Regions from separate parts of the Homo sapiens genome. Here region 2 is linked to region 1. Evidence: fine-mapped expression QTL. A gene starts in region 1. The other region holds a variant in brackets. All regions are shown on one strand. Distances are between the middles of the regions.

Region 1 (8,264 bases):
CTTAGATGTCTTCCAGGAACCTCAAACTCAGCATGTCCAAAGGTCCTCCCTTCGGAAAACAAAAAGACCTGGTTCCCATTCAGTGTTCTCTTTCTCTGAAAACGTCATCCCCAGTTGCTCAAGAAAAAAACTCAAGTCATTTCATGACTCCCTTTTCTCCCTATCCCCCCATCCAATCAATCAACAAATCTTATCAATTACAATTTTCAAAGTTAGTGTCGGCCGGGCATGGTGGCTCATGCTTGTAATCCCAGAACTTTGGGAGGCAGAGGCAGGTGGATCACCTGAGGTCAGGAGTTCGAGACCAGCCTGGCCAACATGGTGAAACCCCATCTCTACTAAAAATACAAAAGTTGCCAGGTGCGGTGGCTCACGCCTGTAGTCCCAGCACTTTGGGAGGCTGAGGCGGGTGGACCATTTGAGGTCAGGAGTTTGAGAGATCAGCCTGGCCAGCATGGTGAGACCCTATCTCTACTAAATATATAAAAATTAGCTGGGAGTGGTGGGTGCCTGTAATCTCAACTACTTGGGAGGCTGAGGCAGGAGAATCGCTTGAATCCAGAGATGGAGGCTGCAGTGAGCTGTGATCATGCCACTGCACTTCAGCCTGGGCGACAGAGTGAGACTCTGTCTCAAAAAAAAAAAAAAAAATACAAACGTTAGCTGAGCATGGTGGCGGGCACCTGTAATCCCAGACAATAGGGAGGCTGAGGCAGGAGAACTGCTTGAACCTGGGAGGCGGAGGTTGCAATGAGCCGAGATTGCGCCATTGTACTCCAGCAAGGGCAACAAGAGCAAAACTCTGTCTCAAAAAAAAAAAACAAAAAACTTAGTGTCTCTCTAAACCCTCTGTCACCACCCTAGATCTAAGCACCATCATCCCTCATACAGACGACAAAAATTATTTGCTACTTGGTCTCTACACATTCACTCTGACCAAGTCTTTCCTTCAATCTCCTCTACTTAACAGCCAGGATAATATTTTAATATCATCCTACATATGCCATTCATCTAGTTTTTTAAAGCCAGGCTAGGTTCTCATTAGCCTTAGGATAAAGACCAAAATACACCTGTAGCTCAAAGAACTGCCTACTCTCTAGCCTCTGCCCACCTCTCCAGCCTCATTCTTCATTCTAGTCTTTCTCCTCTTGCTCTGTCTCTAACTTCCTTTCAAATCCTCAGGTTCACCACTCTTCCCTTTGAACTTTGAACATGAAGTTCCCTCTGCCAGAAACCTTTGTCCCACTATAAGCATCTCCCACTGCCATCCTGAATTACTACTTCCGTTTACCCTCCAAGTCTCTTGAAGTGTCACTTCCTATAGGAAACCTTTCCTGATAACCCTAGACAAGGGGAAAGTACCATGTCAGGCACTCCTACCCAACCCTTTTGGAAATGGCATTCATCACACTTGCAATTATTTATTAAGTATATCCCCTATTAGAATATAAGCTCCATGAAGTCAGGGAAAGCATTTGTTTTCACTGATGTATCCACAGTGCTTAGTACATGGTAGCTGCTCAATCAATATAAATTGTCAGAATTATAGGTTGGGGCCAGATTATAGAGGGCTATAACATCAGTAAACCAAAGAGCAAGGATCATTATCCCTTTGCAAATAAGTAAACCGAAGCAGAAAGAAATGAATAGTTATTTAAGGTCCCAGAGACAGCAGTGATGAGGCCAAATCTAACACTACATTCAGCCCATTTCTCCTCCCTAGGACAATAAAAGAAACTTTGGTGGGTAAGGAAGTATTTCAGAAGAAGAAAATTAGGAATGAGAAGATGGTGCATAAAAGGTCTAAGAGGACAGCTTCTGAATCTGCCTGTTACACTAGTTGCCTCCAGATGGATAGCAGTTAGACTTTCCACACCTAGAGGAGCACTGCTGTTACATAAACAAATATAGCCACTATCACACTCTTCCCGTTAAGAGAAGAGAATAAAATAACAAACTTCTTTCCTGCACAGAGGAGAAGAAACAACCAGGGTGGGTGGGGAACTGTTGTCCTCCAAGTATCTTCAAAAAACCAAATGGGCAGTTTGGCCACCTGGATTGCTACTCAGCAATCCACAGGGAACAGGAAGAAAGAGGGGGGAAAGATCAGCCTTCCCACCACCAGCTGCAGCAAGGATAAGGAAAAAAAAAATGTATTGTATAAGGCAAGCCACTTGAAGACTACTTATTCCTTGGGAATTATGAGAACATTTCATGTAGAGCATTTAAAAACCTTGCTAATCCATAGGCAGGTGCCAGTGAAAGGAAAAGTGGCATGAGCCCAACTGCAGCATTTCATTGTTCACATGCTGCTGGGGCTAAATTATGTCTGTCACAGGAACTACAAACCAGACCAGGGGTCAGGCTCATTGCTGCTCATCCTGCCAAGCACAGACTGCAAGAAAAAGAAAAGGCAAAGAAATTCTCTTCAAAGAGGATTCTGCAAAAATATTCACATAGTCTACATCCACCCAGGAGTTCCTAGTTGAAGTGGAGGACCAGGGAGTGTGTTCTAAGATTGAAGAGAAAGAGATGTGATATGCTGGTGATAAAGGAGGGGTTTTGAAACAGAAAGGAAAAATGTAAACTGCAAATGGAGAGATAGAGAAATAAACAGAATTTCAAGAGATGTGGGTGGGATGGGGTGGGGTGGGGGGAAGAAATGAAAGTACAGGAGAGAAGGGTAGGGTGTCCAGAAGAGCAGAGCGTCATCAACAGAGAGACGCAGAGGCAAAGGCTAACTGTTGATCTTTTCCCAAATCCAAAAGCTGCTCATTGGCATCCCAATAAATCACTCTACTACAAAGCCCATACAATGGACTGTCCTTTGCATTCAGCATCAAGCAGCATTTAATGAAATATCACACAGCTACAACTTTGGAGACCTAAGGATCTGAATTTAAAATGAACAAAATTGGCTTAGCAGCAGAAGACAGCCAGTAAAGAATTTCGCCCATGTCTGACTCAGCTAGGAAAAGGTTTAGCATTCTAGAGTTAAGCAAATACTCTGGCATTTCTCCTTCTTTTGACATTCCAAGAGGGGGTGTGGTTGACCCCAGGCCCATTCATTTCCAAGGGTGTAGATCTCTCAGCCAAGACTGGCCCCATCTGTTGTGGAGCCAGCCAGCTGTTTATCTCAAAGTAACATATCTATTGCCCTAATTATCCCTATAACTCTTACAAGAGCATCATGTAAGTCAGAATGCTTTCTCTCCTGTTAAATGTCAGTTCGTTTAAAAAAACAACAATAACAAAACAACCAAAATCACTCTTCCATGGGCACCTTTCAGTAATGGCAAATGAAGGTTAACAGCGCTTCTAACTTTCCCTTTCTCTAATGTGTTAAAATGAACCCCTCTTCCCTAATCGATCTCTTCAAACCGTTATTTGTGAGTAGTGACTATGCCTCAGGAAACAGCAGCTCATTATGGTACCATTGTCAGTGGCAAAGAGCCTATGCAATGTAATTTAAAACACACAAGCACAAATCTGTCGGCTCCACTTCCAAACAATCTTGAATCCAGCAGTCGGAGAACGGAAAACATTTAACAAAAACGCTGCTTCCAGCAGCCTGAAAGAACCTTCGCCAGACACGTGAAATGTTTCTGACTGGCACGGAGTGCACCATTAAAGGACACTGTCACCTCAAATCAGCAGAAAAGGCGAGACAAACCACATAGACATACACACATAAAATAAAGCCCTACAAAACTTAAGCACGTTCATCTTAAAAATTAATAACTAGTGCTCGTCCAAGCGACATTCAAATGTTCTAAAGTAGTGCGACCACATTAATTCACTGTCTCCATTTCTCCCCACGCATCACCCCTTCCCACTCAAACCTCAGCTCTCGGGCCGTGTGTGACAGGACTGCAGTCCCCCACCTCTGCCTTCCTCAGATTTTCCAAGAGCACTCCCCAACATCCTTCCCAGCCCAGCCCCCTCTCTCCGCCTCAAAAAGGTTGAGAGGAGTTGCGACTAGGGAATTGGCAGGCACCCGTCCTCTGGCGGGGGAAGGTTGCTGGAGTTGTTCTTTGCAGTGACCCAAATGGCACAGAGCTTTTCCCCTTAGCTGTGCCTGCAAGCCTCTCCCCAATCCCCCCCACCTCCCCACCGCTCACAGCTTCCCAAAAGAAAGCCTTGAGAACTAAGCGGGAGGAATAACTTGGTAGAAGCATTTGAATAAATCACTTCAACTCACCTGGTTTGGGATTTTTCTCCCCACCCCAGGCATAAACAGAAATGGATGTGCGAATGAGTCACGCACGCAAGGGAAGGTCTGCGATGTCCTGAGTCCAAGGGCTGGAGTCAGTCCCTGCCCTGGTGCTGCTGCTACACTTAGCTCAGCTGGAGCGAGCGGCAATCGCAAGCCCAGCAGCAGCAGGGGGTGGAGAGACCGTAGCACAATGAATGCAGTGGGGCTTTTGCAATGACATCATCCCTCTGTCCAAACGTCCCCAATAGCCATGCTCGGGAGCGGTGCTTTCTGGGAACTGTAGTCTTCTTACGTCCTGAAGGGATACCCAGGCAATCCCCGAAACTACAATGCCCAAAATGCTCCAAGTGGGACGCGCCCAGAGTGAAGGAGCAAAGGGGACTCGGCCGCCATGTTAGGAGTACTGGGACGATTCCGCGGAGCCGGGCAGAGGTTTTAGGGGTGCGCAGGAGTCAAGTGGTGGTTCAGTGGGGACGGTGAGGTGGAGGACGATCTGGTCGGATAGCCGCGGGCACGAACCTGGGAACCAGAGGGTGGAGGCCATGCTGGGGACTGATGTAGGGCGGGACCGACTGGAAGCGGCATCCAGAGGCCCAGTGAGCCTCGGTCTCAGCTCCTGAAGGGGTTGCATGGGGCCCTACGCTTCCTTCTCCATTTTTTAGCTAAGAGATTGAGAGAGTCGGTTTACTTTTGGGCTTGGAGTATCATTTAGATCTGTTAACAGTACAGTTGAGAGAGTTGGTGTCTTTTGTTGAGGTGCGAGGACCCGAGGCGGCGACCCTCGCCTTTATTCGGAGAAGCCCACTTCCACCCACAGAGTTGGGGTAGTCCTCCGAAATGCATTTTTGTTTTGCCGTTTGTTTTCCAACCCCCTTTCACTCTCCCCAAAGCTTCAGATTCACTGATTTTTCATACAGGAATGATTAACAAAGGCGTCCGAAGAAATCGTTGTTGGAAGGTGACCAAGGTGGAAAGAGACGTTGCTTTGGCCCTGCAAGTAAGAAGAGAGAGGGAATAGCCTGAAGGAGTAACACTAAATTTAAAATGACACTTTTTTACCAACCAGCGAAAGCAGATGTTCAAAGGGGATATTGGCCAGGTGCGGTCGCTCACGCCTTTAATCCCAGCACTTTGGGGGCAGACGCGGGGAGATAGCGTGATTCTAGGAGTTCAACCCCAGCCTGGGCAACATGCGGAGACCCCGTACCGTCTCTACAAAAACATTAAACAAAAAAATTAGCTGGGCATGGTGGTGTACCCCTGTAGTTGCAGCTACACTAGAGGCTGAGGTGGGAGGATCGCTTGAGCCCGGGATGTTGAGGCTGCAGTGAGCCTCGATCCTACCACTGTGCTCCAGCCTGGGCGACAGCAAGCCCGTGTCTCAGAAAAGGCGGGAGGGGTGGGATATTATTGATGATAGGCCTTCTGACGTCTGGCAATAGATTCCAGAGTAACATCGGTCATGGATAAATTTTTTTTTTAACTAAGTGACTGAAACCAAAGTTAATTGTCTTTTGAGTGATTTTGCACAGTATCTCAAAATGAACTGTACTTTTTTTCTTGTGTCACTGAAACAGTGCTGTGTGTTCTTTTTCAGAGTCTGTCACACTAAGATGAGAAATGTCCTTTCTTCCTGAAGGTGTCTGATGTGTAAAAATATGATATACTTTGTGCTGTTTCCTCCCTTCCCTTTTGCATATTATTCTGAAACAACATTAACTAGTTACTTTGCGTCATTGAAGGTATGCACTTCCCCTCTATGTTAGGAGTGAATAAAATTAAAAATAGATCCTTATAACAAAGAAAGGCAGATAGAATGATTAAAAATGACCAAAACATGTTAGAAACAGTCTCTCAGGTGTATGCAGATGGTAATTACAAAAATACTTTTTCAAAAAATGATCTTCTGTGTCATGTTTCTGGGAACAAGTCAAGATGAATGAGTTTGATTTTTAAGCAGAAGTAGTATGTGTTGGTGTCATCCATGAATACAACAATGAAAAAGGCTCAAAGTTGTTGTTATTCAGAAACTTCTCTAAGTAATGGTGGTAAGTACAGGAAAAGGAGCAATGTCTACCATTTTCTTTCTAACCTTCGATTTAACTATTGTAATGTTGTAAGCTTAACAGAGACTTACACTTAGGCTTAATTTCAAGCTCTTCAATCATTTTTCCCGGTTGGTGATTCAGGTGTATTCTCATGTCTTATGTAAACTTATCATGAGTGTTGTTGATTTATAATATATTTCTTTATGTAAGCCATAGCCTTGTCAGTTTGAGTTATATGGAAGACAAATTGTAGGGAAAAAGAGCAACAGATTACTCAGAAACCTTCTGTGTGAGCTGGGCATAGTAGTGCATGCCAGTAGGCTTAGCTACTTGGGAGGCTGAGGCAGGAGGATCACTTGATCCCATTAGTTTGAGGCTGCAGTGAGCTATGATTGTGTCACTGTACTCCAATCTGGACAACAGTGAGACTATGTCTGTTTTTAAAAAAGAAAGAAAGCTTGTGTTTGAGAAGTGATACCTCTAGAATACAGTGATTTCTATAATTTGTCATGTGTTTGGGTAGTTTGAAGTTTTTCTATCCTTGTATCTAATGGACATCTGACCATAAAGATGAAAAAATCCTGCACTCATTATAAATTTTATTTATAAAATTGATATTTGAGGAGTTGGGGAGGCCAGCTTCTGAAAAAATAACAGTGTCCCATAGAAACACCACAACTTAGGAAAATATTGTTAAAGTGGAATTAGGAATATCTAGAGGAGGTAAAGCTTTTCATCTCTCAAAAAAGAATTAGGGCCAGGCACAGTGGCTGACACCTGTAATCCTAGCACTTTGGGAGGCCGAGATGGGCACATCACTTGGGGCCAGGAGTTCAAGACCAGCCTGGCCAACATGGCGAAACCCCATCTCCAAGAAATAGAAAAGTTAGCCAGGTGTGGTGGCGTGCGCCTGTAATACCAGCTACTAGGGTGGCTGAGGCAGGAGAATCGCTTGAACTGGGGAGGTGGAGGTGGCAGTGAGCAGAGATTGAGCCACTGTACTCCAGCCTGGGCAACAGCAAGACCCTATCTCAAAAAAATAATAAAGAGAATTAGGACATGGATTTGTATTAAAATTATAGGTAGCTCATTTAAGAGTATGAAGCCAATTGCTGTTAGAGCAAGGGTTTTTTTCAGTAGAGGTGTCAGGATAACCTATACAGCTCTAAAAGTATATGGCTGTTACCTTCCCATCCCTGTTGAAATCTCCAGGGTTAGAACCAAGTATTGTGTTTTTAAAACTATAGGTGAGTCTACAAGAGTTGGGTGGAGTAGTCCTCTACATCCTGTGTTTGTATTTTTGCAGTAAGTCACACAATAACAAAAGCTTTGAGAAAGATTTTAGGTTTATTGCTAATTATACCCATGAATGAATTCTGAAAATGTGTAGATAAGGAATTTACCTGGTGAACGGTTTACACATGGCAATTGTGGGAGGGAGAGGGGAGTGAGAGGAGATGAGATCAGTTTTAGCTTTAAGAGGACCAACCGGGCCAAGCACGGTGGCTCACGCCTGTAATCCCAGCACTTTGGGGCCGAGGTGGGTGGATCACGAGGTCAGCAGTTCAAGACCAGCCTGACCAACATGGTGAAACCCCGTCTCTACTAAACATACAAAAAATTAACTGAGTGTGGTGGCGGGTGCCTGTAATCCCAGCGACTTGGGAGGCTGAGGCAGGAGAATCGCTTGAAACTGGAAGGCGGAGGTTGCAGTGATCCGAGATTGTGCTAATGCACTCTAGCCCGGGCAATAACAGCAAAACTCCCGTTTAAAAAAAAAAAAAAAAAAGGGACCAACCATGATATCCTGACTAACCTGTATATTTCTTAGAATGAGGGTTTAGCCTAATATTAAGAAAGTCTAATGTTAAGAGACACCTAGTAAGAGCTCAACGCTGTGGTAAAATTATGATAGTTATGCAGAAACTTAAAAGCTGAAGTATCCAGAGACAATATATTGTTTAGAATTTTCTGAAAATAAAAATTTTCTTGCCCTAAGT
Region 2 (8,406 bases), 280 kb before region 1:
ATTACTCTCTCCTTCCTATGGATTTTGATATGCGATCTATTACAACACTGAGCAAACTGTATTGGAACTATTTGCTTTGGAAGTTGCCTTCTCTTCCATGAAGAGCACCTGGCCTGTGAGCACCATGAAGGCAAAGACTGGGTCTTGATCACCTCTGGGCTCCAGCACTTGGCCCAGTGCCTGCTAATAATTCTATGTATAGCCCAATCTCTCAATCCTAATAGAGATTTTACTATTTTCTCTGGGCTTTCCTTAAGTGTTCACATTCCTGTTTATCTCCTCCTAACAAGAATTCAGGCAGGAAACTTCCTAGAATTTGCCCATCAAGATCTAGCAAGGGGCCAGGCATGGTGGCTCATGCCTATAATACCACCATTTTGTGGGGCAGAGGCAAAAGGATCACTTGAGACCGGGAGTTCAAGACCAGCCTGGGCAACATCGCTAGACTCTGTGTCTGCAAATAATAAAATGCTAGCCAGGTGTAGTGGTGCAAGCCTGTAGTCCCATCTACTCAGGAGGCTGAGGCAAGAGGACATGAGACACTAGGCTGATCAAGAAAAGGCAGCTAGTTACGTTTCAGACACTGGAACACACAGGATGTGCCAGGGCTTCCTCACCTTCCTTCTTGTGTCACAGTTGGAGGGAAAAACATATGGTAAGCACCAACAATTATTTGTGCCTACTTATACAGTAAGTGGAGAGCAGGAAGCCTGAATCCACCCACCTCACTCTCTTCCCCAACCCTTTCTGTTGTAGCTAAAGATGGTGAACATCTGACAGCAGGCAGTTTTCACCTTGCCACAGAGGAAACCTTAGGAGTAAATGGTGCCCAGTAGGTCATTTCATAAAGCAGATGAGAGCAGAGCTCTTCTGATGGAAGTGAAGGTGTGAGGTCCAGAATGCCACCTGCTCAGCCCCCTCCTTGTCCCTTGCACTTGGTAGGCGTGGGGTTGCAAGCAGATGGGGAGAACTGGGAAAAGGATGAGGAGGTTATGGTTCATAAAGAGAAGCCACGATGCTGCAGAGCACTGGGGATTTTATATTCTTTAGGGTTTTATTATGCCAAAACAATGGCGGGAGAACACAGTTAGGAATGAATGATAACTGGCTTCCAGGATCCTCACTAACCATGGTGATTATCTCTCAGCCAAAGTCTACAGGCAGCAGACTGATAAGAGACACATCAGTTCTTCTGTTTACAATTCATTTAGAGCTTTTTGTTTTTTCATTTATGTGGAAGCCAGTTTATTCAGGCCTCCAAGATAGGTCTCTAGTCACCAGGGAAACATTTGTCCTTTATCCCTTAACTACCTCTTGACTCCTCAAAACCAGAGAGGAAAATATACCTAACCAGATGGTAAGACAGGTCTGAGTTCACGCAAGACCTTCTTTCAAAGGCTGTGGAGGCAGGAGCCTGTGTAACCGCATCAGCCTGTAGCCAGGCATCCTCCGGAGGCCCCTCTCCCACCACACCCCAGCTCTGGGCAGCTGCTTCCCAGCTGCAGTGCTTGCCAACCCTCAGACTGGAGGGAGGGAAATGAAACCATAGCCATTTATCACCTGTCAAAAATTCAGACTCCACTTGTCCTGAACATCACAGCCAGACACACTAAGATAAGCACCAGTCAGAGGACAAGAAGGGGAATGTGAGGGAGAGCCAAGGGGCCTGTAGCCCACTTGCAGAGAAGAAGATAGTAACATAACAGAACATTTTGCCAGTATCTTCCTGTCCTTGACCTAAATAGGGCAGCAGAGTCTGTGGATGTGCGTTTCTCTAGGAGTAAAATGATCTGGCTGAGGGTTTCTGTTCCACTCCTTCACTGTGCCTTTCAGAAACTTACCTGGGCCTCCTAAGACCTGGCTGCTTCTTCTGTGGAGAGAGAATAATAGGAACATCTGCTTCAAGATTTTCATAAAGGTCAACTAAGAAATGTGACAAGGTTTGTGAACTATAAAGCACTAAACATAAGTGAGTATTAAGAGCATCTAAAGGCTCTCTAGAGTCTGGTTTTGAGTGTATTCATCAAATTATCATCTGCCTGTTTTCTGTTTTGTCCTATGTATGACCTAGGACAAAGCAAAGGAATCAGTGACTGCCAATTGTCATGTTGCCTGGGACAATAGCCTAATTAGATCACCGAAGAAGACTGCAAGGTGGAGAGGAAATCACATAGGCCTGAAGGCAGATAAGCAATTACCAGCTACAGGGCCTTGGGCACATTACCTTATGTTTTTGTTTGTGCACTCTTATCGGTGATATCAGGCCAACGGCACATACCTTCTGAGTTGGGGTGATTGGTAAGCTGTCTAAACTTCCCAGTTGGTAGGTGGAGATAAGCATGATTATGCTTGTCCAGGTCACTAAGACAAAATATCTTGAAATTAGTACTCCTGTAACGAGGGTGCAATTTAACAAACTACTATTTCATATTTTCTTTAATTGCTCCAATTATCCTCAAAACTTACAGGAGAGAGAAGACAAATTTTTCAATTCATGGTATCTCTTTCTCTTCATGTTTAACAGTCTCTTTTGTGTATGTTGGTGTCTTTGGGGTCAATGCTCTTTTGACTTTCTCTCCCTTCCTCTGATCCACCTAGAAATGGCATTTGGGTCAGTGAGGAGGAGCTTACCTGGACTTGCCGCAGTTGAAGAGCAGGGTCCTCACATTTCTCCAGAAAGTTCCTTATATTGTACTCTCATTTGGCCTCTAGACTGGGACACGATGAGGTGTTGCTGATTCCATCATATCTTTTACGGTTATCATACTGTATCTACTGCTTTTGAAATTCTTAGTACTAGTCATTTGGCTGGGTTGCAAAACTCCTATGTGATCTTTATTTCCTTCTTTTTTTTTTTTTTTTTTGAGACAGCATCTTGCTCTGTCTCCCAGACTGGAGTGCAGTGGCGCAGTCTCAGCTCACTGCAGCCTCTGCCTCCCGGGTTCAAGTGGTACTCCTGCCTCAGCCACCCGAGTAGCTGGGATTATAGGCATGTGCCACCATGCCTGGCTAATGTTTGTATTTTTAGTAGAGACAGGGTTTTGCCATGTTGGCCAGGCTAGTCTTGAACTCCTAGCCTCAAGTGATCCACTTGCCTCTGCCTCCCAAAGTGCTGGGGTTACAGGTGTGTGCCACTGCACCTGGCCTCTATGTGATCTTTTCTTTATCTCAAGCCCAGCTCGGCTAGTCCACTAATCTCCTTGGCACATCTGAGCCCCATCACCAAACCAAGCAGAAACTTTCGAATTCCCTGTGCGTCCTGCACAGACCAGGGCAATCAGCAGTACTATCTTACACTATCTATCTAGACCACTTGTCAGCCACTGCTGCACTGTACAGCTTCTGCCTCAGCTTAGGCTCAGTGCTAACCAGAATGCACAACTTCTTCTAGAGGCTTGCTGCGTCCCTAAGCCCTGGACCCAGGCCAGTATTTCTAATGCCTTCAGTTGTCTTATGCCTCTCTGAAGACTTCCATGGTGCACACACATAAACACACACACACACACATCCCTCACACAAACACATATACACACACACCTCAAAGTTATACCCTAAAAAGAGGGGAAAATGAGGACGCTGGTGTTCGTCTGTCTTACCCTACCATGCTCTCTCTCCTCCTTCTAAGATTAACAATGCCAGAAGAGGTGGGATTTCTCTAGTTATTTCTCATGAGTCAGAGCCTTTTCCTATGTACCCTGAGCATTCCTTGTATTATGGTTTATAGTAATTTTTAAAATTATACTTTACTAATGTGTCATAAAATCAATTTAGCAGGCCAAGACCAGATTTTTAGAAATAAAATCTAAAACACAATAAAAAGTGTCAATCAGAGGGCATCTGAAATTTTTATTACAATTTTACATGAATGT[GTGTA/G]TGTGTGTGTGTGTGTGTGTGTGTGTGTGTGTGTGTGTGTGTGTGTTGAGTGATAACAAAAAATATATTTGTTACCATAGATTGTAATCAAAAAGTCCAGGCCAGTGCAGTGACTCATGCCTGTAATCCCACCACTTTGGGAAGCCAAGGCAGGAGGATTGCTTGAGCCCAGGAGTTCCAGACCAGCCAGGGCAACATAGTGAGACCCTGTCTCCACAAAAAATAAAAATTAGCTGTGCGTGGTAGCACATGCCTGTAGTCCCAACTACTCGGGAGGCTGAGATAGGAGGATCTCTTGAGCCCAGGAGGTCAAGCCTGCAGGGAGCTGTGATTGCATCACTGCACTCCAGCCTGGGTGACAGAGCTAGATCCTGTCTCAAAACAAAACAAAAAAAAACAAAACAAAACAAAACAGAACAAAACAAAAACTAAAAATCACTAGCTACATTTAAATGAGCTTGTTGAAAAATTCAAAAATAAATAAATAGAAATTCAAGCAATGCTTTTGGTATGTAAAGATAGCTTAAGACTTAAAAAATCAATCCTGGCCGGGCAAAATGGTGCATCCCTGTCGCTACTTGGTAGGCTGAGGCAGGAAGACTGCTTGAATATGGGACTTTGAGACCAGCATTGGCAACAGAGCAATAACACCATCTCAAAAAAAAAATAAAAAAGGAAAAAAATCAATCTTTTCTGTCAAAAATGTCTGATCTCAAAACCGTTGTTTTACTAGAAATTCATGGAAGAATTCAGGGGTGAAGCTGAATTCTGAGTAATGGACATTTTGCTATGGTGGTATCTACTCTTGCAGTGACAGATGATGACATTGAGTCATTGAGTGAAGAGCTACAAAGCAGCAAGATTTATAATATATTAAAAATAATCTGAATAGTCCAAAAAGTATGATGCCCAATACACTTTTAGAAAGGTGTATAGTATACACCACTAGCAGACCTGGCCCAAAGAGCACACTAGGATTCAATGAGCTCTTACTCCCAGCGCTTTGCCAGACATCCCAGAATCAAGGATATCCTGACTGACTTACATCCTGCCACGAATGATCTATTAGTAATCCTGTGATTATCTTCAACCAAACTGAGTTATTCACCATTTTAAAGGCCAAATTTAGGAGTGAGCCTGCCAGGCTACTTTCCAACATCCTGGTTCATAAGGGGAGCCAAAGCAGGTCTGGAATAAATGTCAACAGATGGTTTTAAACAACTAACTGCAGCCCAGTTTCACCAGAAACATCCACCAATCGAGTCAGGAGAAAGCCTCAGAGCACCTTGTGCCATATAAGTAAGAAGAGTGCCTCAGAGTTTGGGTTGATCCAGAAAAGACCACCCCTCTTTTGAGTTCTGTGCCCCTGACAGGACCCTCACTCTCTCTCCTCCCTGTCCCTCCAGCACTCACAGCCTACACCCCTCCTGCCTGGAGACCATCAGGGTTACCTCATATGCCGTTTACATCTACTTAAGTCAGACACCAAAAAGAGTGTGGAGCTTCCTTGTCCTCTGGGCTCTTATCCCCATTTGGCTTGCTATATTCACTTTTCTGATGCCATCTACCTGGGGAGATGTCTGAGGAAACGCTTCCGCTATATCCCCCTGGAAATCAGAGCCAGTCATCAGCAAATCCCATACATCTTCAATCTTGTACTCTCCCTTGGCCTTCTTGGTCTAACAGACATCTGACTCTCCCAGGAGGACATTGCTTCTCCAGAAACCCTCTCAAGTGGTTGCTGTTTTATCTCCAAACTCCTTGTACCACACAGATCCCTGGTGGGGGTAAAAGTTTTCCTTGCCCATCTTGATGCTTGTTGACCACTTCACCCCTCTGCCTTAACACTCTGCTTTTAATCACATCACCAGGCTATACAATCCCCTATTCCCACTTCATTGCTGTCATCTACTGACCTCTAAGTCATGCTCCCTCATTTCTTGAAGATTATATCTCACTTTTGCTCTCATTTAGTTTAAATCAATAATTTCACTGAGACATAATTTAAATAATCATGCAGCTCTTCCTCCCTGTATCCTGGCTCATGTATTCATTGACCTCATCTCCTCCATTGTCTCACACCCTCGTCTAGCCATCATTCCCATGGTCATGTACTGCACCTTATTATTCCCAATACTTGCAAATTTTACCTAATTTGAGTTTCAAGCAACCCACTCTCTGATCATCCCCCCTCTTATCTTTCCAGTTTGAGTGTCCCAATTCCAGCAAGTTTTTGACCCCACAGAGACCTCCAATCTACAGATACCACTCCTTTTCACCACCCCCTCGCCCCAACTATCAGTACCTGTGGAGGCTTCACTCCCCTCCCTTCCATATCTAGCTTAGAGCATATTCTCATCATCATAATTTCTCTCTTCAACTATATTTTCCCTTTCTTGCTTTATTATACTCTTCTTGAAAAGCTCCAACCTCAGTGAGATTCACCTCTTCACTCCCAGCCTACACCTGAGCAGCTGAACCTGGCTGAAGATCAACACACAACCATGCTGACCAGTCTGATTTTAAGTCCATTACTTTAAGCTCAAGCAGGCCCTTGTAACTGCTCAGGAATCATCTTCCAGATCCATTCACTCTTCCACTTTCTTCACTGAGGAAATAGCAACAGTCACATAGAACTTTCAGAAGTTGCATCACTACATTTGACCTAATGCATTTGTCTGTGCCCACATTCGCCTCCTTCCTTCTCGTTACTGTGAATGGATTGTCTTTACTCCTACTTCAGGCCAACCTGTCCACTTGTATATGAGATGCCGTCCCCACTCCCTTAGTTAAAAAGGCATCATTCCAGAAAATCTCTTCTCCTTTTCGGTAATTCCAAAGCAGTTGCACCATCTTATTAATATATTCTCACCAGTCATGTATGAAAGTTTTGATTTTCCCCCACCTTTGCTAGCATATGCTATTTTCCACTTTTTGTCATTTTGTTATCATAGCCATCTTATGTGTTTGAAGTAGTATCATATGATTTTGATTTGCATTTTCCTAATGGCTAATGATATTGAATATCTTTTCATGCATTTGTTAACCATTTGTGTATATAGGTTTTTTCTAGAAAAATCTATTTTAGTTTTTTGTCCATTTTTTTCTTTAAGGTTTTTATGCTTTGCAAATACTTTCTAGCACCAGACATGTAGAAGAAATTTACCCACAACCTTACTACCCCCAGTAATGTAGCAAGTGTTTTTTGTGTTTCCAAGTTTATCTACACACATAATTTTTTAATTCTTTTTTTAAATTGTGATAAACTATACATAACATAAAATTTGCCTAGTATACACAGTGGCTGCCAGGTAAATGTATATTTAATGAATGAATAAAGGCACAAGTAATGAAATAAAAGTCCCACACCTTAGGCTGACTAGTCCCAGATGCCACCCCCATCTCCAGAACAGTTTCCTGTACTTTTCTGAGAGAAGACTAGAGCTGTTAACTTCTTTCAGCAGTGCTGAGTTAGCAGAGAGAAATTGCTAGCCTTGTTTCCTGGGCTCAGCTGGCTGGGCTCCAAGCTCCATGGCTGGCCCTGGGTTCTGGGGAAAAAGAGAAGGGCAGCTATAGATCACTGCTTGTGTGAAGTAAGCAACACTTGCTTCCGCAAAGAAAATGTCTTCTTTATTCACCTTCACCTCAGCCAGAAGAGCTCCGGACCAGCCAGCTTTGTCCCCAGACCCTTTCTCCTCCATCTCAGGAAGCCGAGAGTCAGAGCCCATTCCCTCAGTTCTGGTGTGTGTGGTCTGAGTCTCAATTCTGTCTAGCAGACAGCATGGAGGACCAAGGTCAGCAAGGTCATCAGAATGCTAAGAGGAAATCTGATTGATGAGCAAGTGTCAGCAGGAATGAATGGGAACCTTAATTAATGACTTCTGCCCTGTTTCAAAGAAAGGTTCTCTTATACCCAGTTCTCTCTTTTCTCTGAAAAAAAAAAATTGGGGTGGGTGAGGAACTGAGGAAAAAAAGGAGGAAAAAACACTCCTATAATCCAAAGTTTTCTAAATGACATAAAGGAGACTTCAAAGACAGGCATGGTAGGTTTTTTATGTGCAAGACTGGTTCAGTGATTCTCTCCTCTCTTTGTTTCCATGGACAGCTAGGCTCCTTTCCAAAGCTAAAAAATAAAAGGCCACTTTGTTCTGAGGGGAGCTAGCTTTTACAAGAAATTTCCTCCTCACCAGTGGGGCAAATTAACTGCCTCAGTCCTGGGTACTCTGGGAGCATCCCTCCAGAGCCAGCTCAGCAGTCCAGCTTCCCACTCCTGCCAGAAGATACATATATGCAAAATCCATATAGTCCACTCCACATAGAAAACTGACTTGATCAAAGTCAGTGTGAGAAGTGTGATAATAGAGGACTGTTCCAGGTTCGTTTGCAACAAAGAGGAGGCAATATCAGCAAAAATAGGCTACAGAGGATTCCTAGAATAGATGGTGTCTGCACTGAGGTTTACCTTCATAATATTAGTCGTAACTCAGCATTGAACATCTGCCACATGCCTGGTCCCGAGGCTGGCTGATGCAG

Evidence for each region.
Region 2: its variant is fine-mapped to the expression of RAB30-DT in subcutaneous fat (TwinsUK, PIP 0.95).

Annotation. Positions count from the first base shown.
Region 1 is chr11:83,067,490-83,075,753 of GRCh38, forward strand. RAB30-DT (RAB30 divergent transcript) reads left to right here and starts at 4,577. Exons shown (of 3, transcript NR_038903.1): 1 at 4,577-4,657; 2 at 5,134-5,315; 3 at 5,814-6,223. RAB30 (RAB30, member RAS oncogene family) reads right to left here and starts at 4,408. Exons shown (of 5, transcript NM_001286060.2): 1 at 4,202-4,408. LINC02951 (long intergenic non-protein coding RNA 2951) reads right to left here. Exons shown (of 3, transcript NR_186233.1): 3 at 4,913-5,207. RefSeq lists enhancers at 2,298-2,347, 2,368-2,597, 4,361-4,850.
Region 2 is chr11:82,789,756-82,798,161 of GRCh38, forward strand. It overlaps LINC02734 (long intergenic non-protein coding RNA 2734), which reads left to right. Exons shown (of 3, transcript NR_183631.1): 2 at 1,834-1,940. Among named protein-coding and RNA genes, the nearest start is that of LINC02734, 12 kb to the left of the region's middle. The variant GTGTA/G (reference allele first, on the strand shown) is at 3,870.